2 separate regions of the Homo sapiens genome follow, and region 2 is linked to region 1. Evidence: fine-mapped expression QTL. A gene starts in region 1. The other region holds a variant in brackets. All regions are shown on one strand. Distances are between the middles of the regions. Region 1 holds the start of TPST2 (tyrosylprotein sulfotransferase 2). Region 2 overlaps TPST2 (tyrosylprotein sulfotransferase 2).

Region 1 (8,332 bases):
AGCTGGGGTGAACTACCTACCTTCTCAAGGAACTCTTCCTCTGTGAAAACGCTGGGTTCTGACCTGAGTTCTTCCGGTGCAGCCTCTTGCTGAAGCAAAGAGTGTGAAGGAAGAAACACAGGGTCCTAGGGGTGGGGAAGGTGCTGAGAGGAGGGGGAAGATGTCTGTGTGTGCAGAATGTTCACAGATGAAGCGTCTGTAACTCAGGACTGCTCATCTCAGGCCTGGGGGGTGGCCCCTCTTGAAATAAGCAGCAACTCACATAGGACACTCCGGTGGCCACCCAGAGAAGTCACCTTCAGAGTAGCGTGGGGGGTTCCAGATAGGGTGTGGGCAGGACCAGACTTAATTTTGGGGTCAAGGGACAAGTCTTCCCCTTCAGTTATGGTCTAGGAGAGCCATGGAGGGTCTCCCTGGCCTCCACAAAGCCTCAGCTGGCAAGGGGGCTCCAGGCTGGCCCGGGATGGGAAGATCCGAGCAGCTTCCACCTTCCTTTCACCCCCTCCTAATACTGTGTGCCAGCTCCTGGGGTGGGCTCTGTAAGCCACTGGGTCCTACACTGCCTCTCCTTGCTTCGGTATTTTCACAGAGTCTTGCTCTGTCACTTAGACCGGAGTGCAGTGGTGTGATTGATCTTGGCTTACTGCAACCTCTGCCTCCTGGGTTCAAGCGATTCCCCTGCCTCAGCCTCCCAAGTAGCTGGGGTTACAGGCACGCACCACCACACCTGGCTAATTTTTGTATTTTTAGTAGAGACGGGGTTTCACCATATTGGATAGGCTGGTCTCGAACTCCTGACCTCAGGTGACCTGCCCACCTTAGCTCCCAAAGTGCTGGGATTACAGGTGTGAGCCTCCGTGCCCGGCCTGAAAATAGTTTACAACTAACACATCAAAGCCAGTGATTTCAAGGGTTATGACTGCTTCAGAGAACACTAAATGTATTTAAGATTATTGGAACCCTCATACACTGGTGGTAGGAATATAAAATGGTACAGCTGTTCTGGAAAAATAGTCTGGCAGGTCCTCAACAGGTTAAACCTGGGTGCAGTGGCTCACACCTATAATCCCAGCACTTTGGGAGCCTGAGGTAGGAGGATCGCTTGAGACCAGGAGTTCAAGACCAGCCTGGGCAACATAGTGGGACCCCTATCTCTACAAAATAAATAAATAATAAAATAAATTAAAAAAATATTTAAAGGTGAAACCTAAAGTTACCTTACGACCCAATCATTCCACTCCTAGAAATATACCTGAGAGAACTGAAAATGTATGTCCAAAGACCTGTACATGAATGTTCATAGCAGTATTATTCATAATAGTCAAAAGTTAGAAACAACCCAAACATCCATCAGCTGACAAATGGATAGAATGTGGTATATCCACATAATAGAATATTATGCAGCCATAAAAAGGAACGAAGTACTTAAAAAAAAAAAAAGGAATGAAGTACTGATACAGGCTGCAAGGGGCTGAACCTTAGAAACATTCTCTGAAGTGAAAAGCATCAGATACCAAAGGCCACATAGTATATGACTGCATTTATATGAAATGTCCAGCACAGGCAAATTCATAGAGAATTTGAGAGTCAGTAAGTGGTTGCCAAGGGATAGGGGAAGAAAGGATTGGGGAGTGACCATGAAACAGCCTTTCTTTTGGGCATGATAAAAATGTTCTAAAATTAGACAGTGGTGATGACTATGCAACTCTGAACATCCTAAAAATTACGGAAACATATACTTTAAAAGGGTGAATTGTACGGCATGTGAACTGTATCTCAACAAAGCTGTTATAAAAAAAGTTTGCATGAGATTTTTAAAAATCAGGTGATACAAAGATGTATATTAAGTAAACAACAGTACAATTGGGGTTCAGTGGGGTGGGGGGATTCAGAAATGACCCAACAGTTCCTTTAGGACAATGAAATAAACCCAGCTTTACAGTTATGGAAACTGAGACTAGATCGGAAGGAAAATGCGTCGCCCGGGCCACATCACTACTAAATCCGGTGTGTCACAGATCTGTTCAAATCCAGAAGCCTACCCTCGCCAGCAGACCACCCTGCTGAGATGAAAGGGTTATCACATGGAGGCTAGGGAGAGGTGTCCACCCACAGCCCAGTCTGGCAGACAGACATGCAAGGGAATGTCTGTTGGGAAGTGAGAAAAAGGGCTGGCTAACTCTGTGGGGTTCAAAACAGGAAGCACCCAACAATACCAGGAGAATGCCAGGGAAGGCTTCCCGGAGGAGGTGCTGCTTGAGGGGGCTTCTGTAGGATAAGTAGGAGTTCAACAGCCCGCCTCCTCAACATCCCCAAGGACATTAAGTCAGGAGGCCTGTGAGTGAGTTTCAGCTCTGCCACATCCTAGCTGTGAATCCTAGGGTCACGGGCAGGTGACCTCTCCAAGCCTCAGTCTCCCCATCTGTAAAAGGGGAAGGGGGCAAGAGGTTAGGCACGGTTCTTTCTAATGACTCTGCTGAGGTGGATGGTTCCTTCCCTAGGGAACGGGCCTTTGAGTGGGAATGCCAGACCTCGACCTCTGTCCCATCTAACAACGACTCTGCCAGGTCAGGCGTGCTCAGCCTCTGAGCCCATGCTCCCAGTCCCCTGCTACCAGTCCCAGTCCCGGCTTTCCGGGCACCTCCCATCCAGCTCACACCGAGAAGCGGAGTTTACGGAGGGAGGTTGGGGGTTGGGGTGGGATCCTCGGGTCAAATTCCTCTCCACTCCTCACCAGTGACCTCCAAGTTCACTAGGGCTCCCCAACCCAGTGCTCCCAGCGCCCACCTCCCCAGCCGACGATTTCCGCCCCCAACGCCTCCACTTCTGACGCTCCTCGCAACTCCACGGCTGCTGCAAGTTAACTTCCACGCGCCCTGGCGCCCGCCTGGGGGTCCCCGCGCGCCTGGGCGAGGTTGGGGACTCCGGAGGCGGGGACGCGCCGCCCTCCCCCCCAGTCCCCCCGCCAACAGACGCTGAGCGTCTCCCAGGCGCTGGGTCCGAAGCGGGAAGCGTGGTAACGGGGGCCCGGTGGATGCCGCACCCCGCGGAAAGCGCTCGGGACGCCGAGCGGGTGCGGATCCCAGAACCGCGCGCCCGCGCCGCCTGCCTGCCTCCCAGATCCCAGCTCCCAGCCCCGGAGCCCGAGCAGTCGCGCCGGGCCCGGAGGCAGCCGCCAGGACGGAGGGCTGCCAGGCGCCCGAGGCCGACCCGCACGGCCCCCAGCCCGCGCCCCCGGTTGCAACCCGAGGCCACCCCCTGCCGCCCCAGGGCCACCTACCGTGGCGAGACGCGGCGAGGCAGCCCCACGCACCCAGCGACTCCCGGCTCTCCAGCCGCCCCAGCCGGGGAAGGGGGAGGTGCCCGCGCGGGGGCGGGGCCGCGGCGACGTGACGTACGGGGGCGGGCCCGATACGCGGCCCCGCCCCGCCCCGCCCCATCCCCTCCACTGCGCCTCGGGACCGCGAGGTGAGCAGAGGCTGGTCGGGAAGTTTCCCGGAGGCTCGCCCCGGGAACCCCGCCCCGCCGCCCTGGAAGCCCCTGTCTGCTCGCTGGCTTACCCCTAGGACGGGCAGCTCACCACTTCTCCCGGTCAGTTCTGTTTAAGAGAAGTTCCTTTCTGCCTGTAAGCAATGAAGTGGAATGATCACCAAAAAGTGGTGTAAGAAAAGAAAAGTAGACCCGCAGCGGGGTGTATTCGTGCTACTGTTTGTGTAAAACACAGAAAAAAGAAAGGGGTGGTCTGATGTATAGTCATACACACCAGTGGTTTTGGAGGGAGTTTTTGTGGATATACCACATTCTCTCCATTTATCAGGGATTTTGCCCTGACATCCCTCCACCACCACGACATTTGGCAATCTCTGAAGACATTTTTGGTTGTCATAACTGGGGAAGTGGAGAGGCGATACTGGCATCTAGTGAGTAGAGGCCTGGAATGCTGCTAAACATTCTGCGGTGCATAGGACACCCTTTCCACCCCCAGCCCTGCCACTACCCCCCCAAAAAAAACCCTGCAAAAAATGCCGAATAGCGTAAAGGTTGTGAAGCCCTGATATACACAAATGAAACAAAACTCCTGACTGATAAATCTTAGCACAGTCTAAGTTCTATAACCTTTCAGTGCTTCTGCTTCTTCATGTGTAAAATTGGAAAAATAATAGAGCTATCTATGCATCGTATGCTTGTGCATTGAATACCTGAAGAAAAGGTAGGGTAGGCATGCAGGCTTACTTTTCATTGTGAACTTTGGTTCTTTGTTCTCTTTTAACTTTCTATTTGCCATATGTATATATTATCTGTTTAAAATAAATTTCTGGGTCAGGTGCATGGCTCACACCTGTGATTCTAGCACTTTGGGAGGCGAGGCGGGCGGATCACTTGAGGCTAGGAGTTCAAGACCAGCCTGGCCAAAATGGTGAAACCTCGTTTCTAATAAAAATACGAAAATGACTTTGGGAGGCCAAGGTGGGTGGATCACATGAGGTCAGGAGTTCGAGACCAGCCAGGCCAACATGGCGAAACCCTGTCTCTACTAAAAATACAAAAATTAGCCGGGTGTGGTGGTACATGCCTGTAGTCCCAGCTACTCAGGAGGCTGAGACAGGAGAATCGCTTGAACCTGGGAGGCAAGGGTTGCAGTGAGCTGAGATTGCACTGCACTCCAGCCTGGGCAACAAGTGAGACTCTGTCTCAAAAAAAAAAAAAAAAATGCAATCCCAGCACTTTGGGAGGCCGATGCGGGTGGATCACCAGGTCAGGAATCCAAGACCAGCCTGACCAATATGGTGAAACCCTGTTTCTACTAAAAATACAAAAATTAGCTGGGCATGGTGGTGCATGCCTGTAGTCCCAGCTACTCAGGAGGCTGAGGCAGAAGAATCGCTTGAACCCAGGAGGTGGAGGTTGCAGTGAGCCAAGATCGCACCACTGCACTCCCACCTGGGCGACAGAGTGAGACTCCGTCTCAAAAAAAAAAAAAAAAAATGAGCAGGGCATGGTGCTGCTCACCTGTAATTCCCCCTACTTGGGAGGCTGAGGCACGAGAATTGCTTGAACCCAGGAGGCAGAGGTTACAGTGAGTGTAGATCGCACCACTGCACTCCATCCTGGGTGAGTACACACACACACACACACACACACACACACACACACACAGAAACTAGGGCACACAGATATTAAGTAATTTGCCCATGGCCAGCCACATGTTCATTCATTGGTCATTCATTAATTCATTCATGTGTCCAATAAATAGTTAGTGCTTGCCTTATGGAAAATGCTGGGACTGATAAAGCTGCCTCCATGGAGCCAGCCATTACTGGTCTGGAAACAATACAACAACATTACATAGTGTTTATTGCGTGCATGTTAGAGACTTCATATGACTGATTTGATAGACACATAGATTAAACACCAGCAGGGTGTTTTATAATGTCCTTTTGTGGATGAAAAAAATGGAGTTCAGAGGAAGAGGTGTGAATGGGGGCATTTGTTTAATAACATTCTAGCAATGGCATTTCCTGAGCTCTCTATGCTAGGCACAGATTCAGCAGCTAACAGGGGGACAAAGGTCCAAGTTGGGGAAGCTAGATCCTTCAACAAGCCTTCACAGTAAAGTGAGCACCTGTAACTGATGAGGCAGGAGCAGCAGAGATTAACCTGGTCCAGGGAGGGAGGGCCAGGCGTGTGTATACATGCCAGAGGCATGGGTGGGGATCCTTGGAAGAGTGCACTGGTCACAGAATCTAGCAGGTGCAAAGGCCTAGCAGGAAGGAAGCGAGCCTGGGGCCTTGCATGAAGTGCAGAGTGGACAGGATGTGGTGGAGGTGAGAGAAGAGATCAGAGGTGTCTGCAGGGCTGGATGCTGCAGAGCTTTGTGGGCTGTGGGAAGGAGTCGGGGCTTTTCTCTTGCAGTGATGGAGAGACAGGGAAGGTGTTCAACAGGGGAAGGGCATGGGGAGCCTGACTTTCTGCAAAGATCCCTCTGGTGCTGTGTGAAGAAGAAACAGGCAGAAACTGGTTTGGAGGGTGTTGAAATAATTCAGGAACCCAGAGAGGGGATGTGGGCATGGAGGGGGTGTTTTGGTTCCGGAGAGGTTTGGAAGACAGAATTGGCAGATCTCAGTTGAGAGGCTAAGGAGGAGGATCAGAATGATCGTCTTGTTGTCTAGGTTGGGACTTCTCTCAGTACCCCTAGCTCAGTGAACCTTTCCAGGTCTCAATCTGTCTGTCACCTCCTTGAGGAAGGCTAATTGCCCCTCAGGACATCGTGGTGGACCAGACACCAGACTGTGCAGCCCAGGAATTTGATGTGACTTTGAAGGCAGACAAAATAATTCATTCCTCCTGTCTGCATCTTCAGCCGGGAACACCTAGAGCAGATACCTCTTCTGTCTTCCTCCCCAACCTATCTTCCCAGCATCTAGGCAAAACCCAGTACTTAAGAGGTTTTATCAAAAGCAGGAAGAATATTTATCAAAAGCAGGAAGAATAGATGTAGCATAATACACATTGATCCAAAAATTCTTTCCAGCTCTGACATTCAAGAGGATGAGGTTGATGTTATGTCAATAATTACACTTTAGGCCAGGCTCAATGGCTCACTCCTGTAATTCCAGCACTGTGGGAGGCTGAAGAGGGAGGATAGCTTGAACCCAGGAGATTGAGACCAGCCTGGGCAACATGGTGAGACCTTGTCTCTACTTTTTTTTTTTAATTAAAATTTTTTTAAAAACCATTTTATTTATTTTTATTTTATTTATTTATTTCTTTGAGACAGAGTCTCACTCTGTTGCCCAGGCTGGAGTACAGTGGTGTGATCTCGGCTCACTGCAACCTCCGCCTCCTGGGTCCAAGCAGTCCTCCTGCTTCAGCCTATTGAGTATCTGGGATTACAAGCATGCGCCAATATGCCTGGCTAATTTTTGTATTTGGAGTAGAGATGGGATTTCTTCATGTTGGCCAGGCTCGTCTCCAACTCCTGACCTCAAGTGATCCACCTGTCTTGGACTCCCAAAGTGCTGGGATTACAAGTGTGAGCCACCATGCCCAACCACAGAAAACACTTTATTCAGGTGCTTGCTATGTGCTAAACACCTTATAATTATTATATTCAAGCTGATCATTTACCCTCTCCAAGCTTTTGGTGTTTTATTATCATTACTCCCATTTTACAGATGTGGAAACAGAGGCTCCAGCAGGTAATTTGATTTGGCCAAGGATAATAGCTGGTAATTGTCAGAGCTGGAATGCAAACTCAGGTCTCTCTCACCCTTTCTAGTACACTGATAGAAGGCAGTGGCTCGGCAGTGGGCAGGAAGTAAAAGTAAGTGGGCAGGTTTTCTTCTCCTGCTGGAAGGGTGTAGTATTATTGTTCCTAGCTGGGGATCCAGGCTTCACAAAGCATTCGTTGATCCTAAGTATCTGACCCAGGCTATTGGCTGTCGTGGCAGTTTGGCTCTAAGAAGGCTCATCTCTTTAGAACCTCTGCAGGGCACCCTGGAACCATGTCTTTTCCCCAGAGCCCAGTTGCTGTGTATTTATCAGCATCTCATGCTGGCACAAAAGCATTCAATGCCTCTGGGTGATCCTCCTGCCTCCACCCCACATATACACACTGCCGGCGTTGGGCTTATGCTCCAATGTCTAAAAGATTACGGGTTGCCTCTTGTCGATGAGAATGAGAGCCGCTCTCTCATAATCAAGATGCTTTGCCTTTCCAAAGGCCTGAGACTCAAAGATTCACAAGCTGGGATCTATCTAGCTTTGAAACAATATGAAGTCCCCAGTTTCCTCAGGCATTGTATTTTAAAGCCAGTGCTTAGGGACACTCCTGCTTGAACCCGGGAGGTGGAGGTTGTGGTGGGCTGAGATTGCGCCACTGCACTCCAGCCTGGGCGATAGAGTGAGACTCTAGCTAAAACAAAAAACAAAAAACAAAAACCAAAACAAACAAACAAAAAGCCAGCATTTAGAGCCAAACCCATGCAGTCAAAATTGCCTTGGAGAAGCCCCCGAAAAGGCTGAAGGCAACATAGCCCCTTGGAAGTCCAGCTTCACTGGTTTCCGTCAATATTAAACTTGGACTCATCATGATTTCTGGGGTTGAGCACCTGATGAAATGAAACCTTAGTTTTAGTTTGAAGGCAAAAGTGTGGCTTATCTTTAAGCTCTGAAATTCTGCTCCAGGTGGTGAGATGCTCATGTTTTGAGAGATATGTTGAAACTAGGACCCATGGAAGGAACACCAGGTTTATGGTTCCTAAGTCACACTCACTCTCAGCCTTACTACATGTTATTTTCTTTAACTTGCTTCTTTTAGTCTCTATTCTTT
Region 2 (8,332 bases), 64 kb before region 1:
AAAGGCTCTAGAACAAAGCTCTGATTTCACAGTGAGATTAAAATTCTGCCCAAATCAGGGTACATGGGTGGAATTAATCAAAAAAGTTAGTATGTATGCCTTTCACCCCAGCAATTCTACTTCTCATTTTGCAGAGACTCACTCATACAGTGGCATCAAGAGGTTATATGTGCAGGAGAACGTCCACTGCAGCTTTGCCAGTAGCGATGAAAACTGCTAACAGCCTAAGGGCCTAGCCAAAGTGGAATGCTCAAAAAAGATGGTTTGCTCTAGAACAGGCAGCTGGTAAAAGGAGTGGTGTTAGATCAGCACATGTTCACATCAGAAATGCTCCAGGAGCCAGGTGCGGTGGCTCACGCCTGTAAACCCAACTCTTTGAGAGGCTGAGGAAGGATTGCTTGAGCCCAGGAGTTTGAGACCAGCCTGGGCAACATAGTGATTCCCCTCTTTACAAAAAATAAAAAGTTAGGTAGGTGTCATGGTCCAGCTACTCAGGAGGCTGAGGTGAAAGGACTGCTTGAGCCCAGGAGTTAGAGGTTGCAGTGAGCTGTGTTTGCAGGAGTTAGAGGTTGCAGTGAGCTGTGTTTGCAGGAGTTAGAGGTTGCAGTGAGCTGTGTTTGCAGGAGTTAGAGGTTGCAGTGAGCTGTGTTTGCAGGAGTTAGAGGTTGCAGTGAGCTGTGTTTGTGCCACTGCACTGCAGCCTGAGCAACCAAGCGGGACTCTGTCTCCAAAACAAACAAACAAACAATCCTCCAGAGCAATCTGTTAAATTACATTTTGGAATAACCTATTCAAAATGGTTTTTTCCATACGTCTTTAAGATGATAATATTTATATGTTCAAAAATTTAAAGTCTGGAAGACTATGTACAAACAGAAAATGGTAGCATTACCTTTAGGAGCTATTGAGAGGAAGTACAAATAGAGCCACTTGCCTTCTTACTATCAATTCTGATTGTCCCATGTTTTATAATATATTCATGTAGTACTCTAAACAAAATCTTTTCAGATCAAATCAGGGGAGATGAAATGAGAGTGGATTCTGAGCCTAGTTTTTTTCAGGGAACAAGACCCAGTGCTACCACTTAGGGGCTAGAAACAGAAATTGTATTTATTTTATTTTGTTTTATTTATTTTATTTTTGAGATGGAGTCTCACTCTGTTGCCCAGGCTGGAGTGTACTAGCATGATCTTGGTTCACTGCAACCTCTGCCTCCTGGGTTCAAGCAATTCTCCTGCCTCAGCCTCCCAAGTAGCTGCAACTACAGGCATGCGCCACGACGCCCAGCTAATTTTTGTATTTTTAGTAGATGGGGTTTCGCCACGTTGGCCAGGCTGGTCTGGAACTCCTGACCTCAGCTTATCTGCCCACCTCAGCCTCCCAAAGTGCTGGGATTACAAGCATGAGCCACCGGGCCCGGCCTCTTTATTTTCTTTCAGTGTTTTCCCAGGAAGTTCTCTGAACATCCAGGGTCTTCACAGATGGACTTCTCATAAAAGGTAACTCCTGGAACCAGACATAAATTTTTTTTTTGGGGTGTGTGGTGATGGGATACATAGCTGTCGCCAGATTCTCAAAGGGACAGTGTCACACTTAACAGAGCAAGGAGAGTAATCGGTGATTGGTGAATGATCATTTATCAGAGACTGTGTGTCAAACATTTAAAAAATAAAAAGTAACTGCTGAAGAAATGAACAAAAAGGGTCACACCTTCAAAAAAGCCTAATTTCCATTCCAGAGCAATCTCAAGACAAGGAAAAATAAGAGCTGCTTCACACTGAGGGCTTATCTGGTATCAAGGACCACCGCCAATGTCATCCATTAGCCATCCCCAATAAACCCATGAAGTTCAGCCTGAACAGCATAGAAAGACCTCGTCTCTACAGAAAAAAAAAAATTTAAAAAGTAGCCAGGTGTGGTGGCACATGCCCAGCTACTCAGGAGGCTAAGATGGGAGGATCACCTGACCCTAGGAGACCGAGGCTGCAGTGAGCTATGATCACGCCACTGTACTCTAGCCTGAGTGACAGAGCGAGATTCTGTCTAAACACACACATACACACATACACACCATGAAGTTTTAACTTCCCCATTTTACAGATGAAGAGACAAAGTCTCAAGCCATACAGCCAGTAGGTCAGCCTGACTCCAAAAACCCATGCCCCAAGCCACAATAAGTCACTGCCTTCCAAAAGCCTCATATTATCATGAGATATAAGGCAAGGAGGTATGGGTAAAACACCTTAACCCTTAAAGATACAAACTTATTGTAGGCCCAGTTGGTCCCTCAGCATTTGGGGACTGTGCTATAAGGGTTAACTCAGCAGGCTTGAAGTGTCCAAACCCAGCACATCTCAAAGAAAAAACTGGCCTTAATGGGCTCCTGGGAGATAACCTCTAAGTCCTTGGAATATCCTCCCAAGTAGGGGTGTCTTTGTATACCTCAGGCCTTGGGCCATACCAGGCCAGATAGTTTGTGCTAATAATGTGATTTATGGTGGGGACCTTGGGCCATGCTGTATCATTTTGACCTCTGGAGCAGCTGGTGATTAAGTAACTAAAGTCGGTCATGTGATTGCCCTATGTGACTGACATGCAATAAAAACCTAGACCCCAAGGCTAGGGTGAGCTTTCTGGCTGGTAATATTTAGTACGTGTTGTCACATATCATTGCTGGGAAAATTAAGTGTGTCTGTAAGACTCTACCAGGAGATGACAACTGGAAGCTTGAGGCCGGTCTCTCCCGGACTCTGCCCTATGCACCTTTTTCTTTTGTTGATTTTATTTTGAGATGGAGTCTTGCTCTGTCACCCAGGCTGGAGTATAATGGCACGATCTCCGCTCACTGCAACCTCCGCCTCCCAGGTTCAAGCCTCCTGAGTAGCTGGGATTACAGGTGCACACCACCACGCCCAGGTAATTTTTGTATTTTTAGTAGAGACGGGGTTTCACCATGTTGGCCAGGCTGGTCTCGAACTCCTGACCTCAGGCGATCTGCCTGCCTTGGCCTCCCAAAGTGCTGGGATTACAGGCGTGAGCCACTCCACCCGGCCTCTTTTGCTGATTTTAATGTTTATCCTTTTGCTGTAATAAACCATAACCATAAGGATAATAGCTCTTCTGAATTCTGAGTTCTTCTAGCCAATCATCGATCCTGGGGGTGGCCCTGGGGACCCTGACACAGGAATTCAGCTGTGCCTTACATGCACCTATATTCTCCAGCTTTTTGCTCATCACAAATCTACCTGACAAAATCCAGTATGGAAAGAAAAAAAAAACCCTATTCATTCAGTAAAGTAAGGCACAAACAAATGAGCCTCTGTTCACTTTATTCAAAGAGTATTTTTTTCCTCTGTGAAACTAGGTAGAACTGAGGAGGAATCAAAGAAAGCCTCATATATTAAACTCTTAAATAGATTCTTTGAATTCAAAGTAAGGGTCAATAGGAGAGGCACAGGTTGTGGGCCTTGTCCCAGCAAACAAAGCCACCAAGGCAGTCCTGCAAATTAAGGAGGATGGCAAATCTGTCTCTTAAAAAAAAGTTCTTGAGGGGAAAAATATAAAATACCTAAGTTTCAAAAGCCGGACTACTTCCATACCCTTCATTCTCTACCCTGGAGTGTCCAGAGATAGAGAGTTTCAAGGTACGTTTTCAATGATTCAGCTTTTGCAAACATATGCAAATACATTCCTCATCAGCAGTCCTGTTTTGGCGATTAATAGCAAGCAATATGCTTGGATTAGAGGTCCGATTTCCACTTAAATGCATTTTCTTCTCTTCTTGGCAATGAAGTCATTTGC[G/A]GAGATCTGAAAGTGGGGAAGACTGTGTTAGGCTCAGAGTAACAATTCTGAAATAGATCATTTATATTTATACATGTGATTGCAGAACATACTGTCTTCATCCATTCGCATAAGCATGTAATGTTTTAAGAATGCATCCCAGATGGCCAGAGAGAGTTTAAATTTAAAAACGTTTCCTGGGTTCTTCCCCACATCTCATCTTGCATCCACTTGACCTCAAATATACACTTTTCTTATGGACACAGAGCAAATGACAGTGATTATGTGATAAATACTGATGAATTCTTGGAGGCAAGAGAAGGACTCATGTTTGTTCAAGGCCAACTCTGTACCCAGGATTCAGCTAAAGCACCTCTATATGGTATCTCATTTAAACAGTAAAACAAGTAACAAATCTGCTTTTGTCAATGAGAAGGTCCAGGATTCTACTAATGATCTGCAGAAAGGCAGCGAGGGAACAGTTAGTGAGGAACAGGGAGGAAAGCTGTTTTTCATGAGAGGGTTCTTTTCTTTGGAATAGAACTATGGGATCTTGGGTAGGTGTGGTGGCTCATGCCTGTAATCCCAGCACTTTGGGAGGCTGAGGTGGGCAGATCACTTGAGGCCAGGAGTTTGAGACCAGCCTGGCCAACATGGTGAAACCCCGTCTCTACTAAAAATACAAAAATTAGCTGGGTGTGGTAGCGCACACTTGTAACCCCAGCTACTTGGAAGGCTGAGGCACGAGAGTCACTTGAACCCCAGAAGGTGGAGATTGCTGTGAGCTGAGATCGTGCCACTGCACTCCAGCCTGGGGAACAGGGTGAGACTCTGTCTCAAAAACAAAAACTCTGGGATCTTAGTGCAACTCAAGATGGGAACCCTAATAATGACAGAGTCCTTGCAGGTTGGAGCAAAGTAAATTGAAAGAAAAACTAAAACATATGCTGATTGTTTAAAAATAGATACAGAGACTAAAAATAAGAGTCCAAGCTGGAAGGTGTTTCCATGTAAAATAACCTCTCTTGAGGTTTCCTTTAACCTGATCATAGAGGCTGGGGGACAGAAGGAAGTGAGCTCACTCATGCAGCCTTAACTCCAGTGCCCAAGTCCACAGCGAGGGCCCAGCACTTCACGGTTTCCAAGCACTCCCACCTGGGCCAGCTCACGCCATCTCATGGCCAACCTCAGAGGTGGGCAATGATGAATCCCCATTCTCCAGATGAAGAAAACAGGGGCTGAAGGGAGTTAAACCTGGAGATCTTAAATCTTTGAATTACCAAGTTCAAAAAAATCCCTTTCCCCACCCCTTAGTAGAATATGGATGGATAAATGTGCACTTAAAATCATTCACTAAAAGCAAACCTGGGAGGAATTCTGTCCCTTGGTGGCTGTGTAGCCTTGGGCAAGTCAAAGCCCTTCCTTCTCTGTGCTTTGGTTTTCTCTTCTGTAAAATGGAATGATCATGTCATCCGCCTCCCAAGGATGCTGAGGGTTAAATGAGTAACACAGGACCAGTACCTGGCCCAACGGCCATGGGGGTTATTCTTAGAACAGAACGACTTGTGACTGTTATTAGAACATTAATTGCTCTGGCCCAACGCTGATGCTGTTTTTAGAAGCCAGACTGGCAGACAGCATTCTGTGCAAAAATGGTTCCAGAATCTCCCCCTCCCCCATCATAGTGGTGCTTCCTGCCCTGTCCCCAGTGTCAGACAAACCTTTTTCTGGTTGGTTCAGCGTTAATCCCTCTCCCTGTCCTTGATCCAGAGCTAGAAAACTAAGCCTTGATTCTATAAATAGCACCCCCAGTCTGTCACCATGGAAACCTCTGATGGGGCTGGGTCAGCCCACCCTAGTGGACATGTCTACCCCAGGGAGGCTCTGGAAGGACAGAAAAGTGGCTTTTCAGAAAAGTGGCTCCGGGGCCACCCAGAAGCAGCGGGAACCCCCAGTGAAGTCCACAGGCTTACCTGGAAATCACGAGCTTCCTAAGTGGGAGGAGGTGCTGTTCTGGTTCACCTGGAGAAAGACAATACACAGAAGAAGGGGTCACGGCCAGGTGAGGGATGCCTTGCTGTATTGAGGGTCACCCCTCAGCATCACTGAGTCATGCACATGCTTATTCACGTAGTATTTACTGTACATCTACTATGTGCCAGGTGCTGGGATAGCGTGGTGAGCGGGACAGACCCAAACCTAGGATCACGGAACTTACGTTCGAGTTGAAGAAAAAGCCTACTGAACACGCACAGATGCAAGAAAATGTCAAACTTGGGCAATATGACAGGCTGCTATGAGTGATCAGTATCTGTGCTACTTCAAAAACGGTGGCCAGGAAAGGACTCTACAAGATGGCATTTCAGCTGTGGTATAATAATAAATATTTGTTCATTGTCCCCAGTTCCTGGCACATAGCTCCCCAAACTCTTGGAATCTCTGAAGGAATAAGGGTATCTTGGCCGGGCGCCATGGCTCATGGCTGTAATCCCAGCGCTTTGGGAGGCCGAGGAGGGTGGATCACCTGAGGTCAGGAGTTTGAGACCAGCCTGGCCAACATGGCAAAACTCTGTCTCTACTAAAATACAAAAATTAGCCGGGTGTGGTGGCGGGCACCTGTAATCCTAGCTACTCAGGAGGCTGAGGCAGGAGAATCGCTTGAACCCGGGAGGCAGAGGTTGCAGTGAGCCAAGATCATGCCACTGCACTCCAGCCTGGGTGACAGAGGGAGACTAGGTATCAAAAAAACAAAAACAAAAACAAAAAAAAAACAAAACGTATCTTTTGCATGCTAATGACATGACTAATGGCTGGGGGTCCCTAGATAGCTTCAGGATTAGGGGAAGGGGTCTCAGAAAGACCAAGGCATGATTAGAGGGTTGGAACTTTTTTTGTTGTTTGAGACGGAGTCTCACTGTGTTGCCCAGGCTGGATGGAGTGCGGTGGTGCAATCTTGGTTCACTGCAACCTCCGCGTCCTGAGCTCAAGCAATTCTCCTGCCTCAGCCTTCCAAGTAGCTGGGACTACAGACGTGTGCCACCACGAATGGCTAATATTTTTTGTATTTTTAGTAGAGACAGGGTTTCACCATGTTGGCCCGGCTGGTTTTGAACTGCTGACCTCAAGTGATCTGCCTGCCTCAGCCTCCCAAAGTGCTAGGATTACAGGCATGAGCCACCACACCCAGCCAGAAGGTTGGAACTTTAAGCCCCACCTGCCTTCTCCCCTCCCTGACCTCCTGGGAGGGGAGAGGGGAGAGGGTCTAGGGGCTAGGAGCTGGAGATTGGGCAATCACCCATGACCCATGATTTAATCAGTCATGCCTCTATGATGAAATCTCTAAATGACAGAATTTGGAAAGCTTCCTGGTTGGTAAACACATTGAGAGGCTGGGAGGGTGTCATGCCGGGAAAGGGCATGGATGTTCTGTGACCCATCCCCCATACCTCACCCTACGCTTCTTGCATTTGACTGTACCTGAGTTGTATTCTTTTTTATGAGACAGGGTCTCACTCTGCCACCCAGGCCAGAGTGCAGTGGCACGAACATGTGCCACATGTGCCATACCCAGCTAAGGCTTTCTCTTTTTTGTAGGGAGATGGGGTCTCACTGTGTTGGCCTTGAATTTAAAAAAAAAAAATTAATGCGATCTGAGAGCTAGGGACCATGGCTTTTGAGCATTTCCTGGTTGTTTGGGGAGAGGTCCCACTCCCTTTGTGGGAATCAGAGATCTATCTTTTGCTGACGTCAAGAAAGTAGCCAGAATTAGTGAGCACTAATTTAGTATTTGTTTTAACCAAAAAGATGATGTAGGCAGAACAACACAGTGGGGATGAGGAGAATTATCCACAAACTGAAACTTCTCATTTTTGCACGTTGCCTTCGTTTTTGTTGTTGTTGTTGCTGCTGTTGTTTTTAAGAGACAGGGGCTCCAGCGATCCTCCCACCTCAGCCTCCTGAGAACCTGGGACTGCAGGCATGCCACTGCACCCAACTCCTGCGTGTTGCCTTTTTTTGTCCACCTGAATATGCATTTTTACATTAGTTGCAATTGTATAGTATGAGCTGCTTTGTTTTGCTTTCTTACTATTTTTTCATCATTTGGGTTTCACTAGCACCATTTTGGATGGCTACAGATATTCTGTGGAGTGCATGTACCACCGTTTACTGACTGCTTACCTAAGAATGGTTCCAATTTTTGCAGTATTTTAAATGACATCACATCCTGATTCTGCCTCTCTTCTGTTGGGTACTGAAGCTCTACTGAATCATTCCCTTAGAATTCACTTCTAAAAAATGGAATCATGCTTGAACCCGGGAGGTGGAGGTTGCAGTGGGCTGAGATGGCGCCACTGCACTCCAGCCTGGGTGACACAGTGAAACCCCATCTCAAAAAAAAAAAGGAATCAGCAGGAGCAGGTGGAAGGGTTCAGATCTTTTGAAGACTCTTGAACAACAAGGCTAAAAGTGTTTTACAAAAGGGTTGGGGTCAGGAGCAGTGGCTCACGCCTGTAATCCCAGCATTTTGGGAGGCCGAGGTGGGTGGATCACT

What was found.
Region 2: its variant is fine-mapped to the expression of TPST2 in whole blood (TOPMed, PIP above 0.99).

What each region holds. Positions count from the first base shown.
Region 1 is chr22:26,586,773-26,595,104 of GRCh38, forward strand. It overlaps TPST2 (tyrosylprotein sulfotransferase 2), which reads right to left and starts at 3,360. Exons shown (of 7, transcript NM_003595.5): 1 at 3,281-3,360. It also overlaps a transcript of CRYBA4 not described here. RefSeq lists enhancers at 2,558-3,058, 3,575-3,714, 6,011-6,160 and silencers at 2,905-3,084, 3,095-3,464.
Region 2 is chr22:26,522,461-26,530,792 of GRCh38, forward strand. TPST2 (tyrosylprotein sulfotransferase 2) reads right to left here. Exons shown (of 7, transcript NM_003595.5): 6 at 5,754-5,802; 7 at 1-3,807. The coding sequence ends at 5,761. Among named protein-coding and RNA genes, the nearest start is that of TFIP11-DT, 14 kb to the left of the region's middle. The variant G/A (reference allele first, on the strand shown) is at 3,802.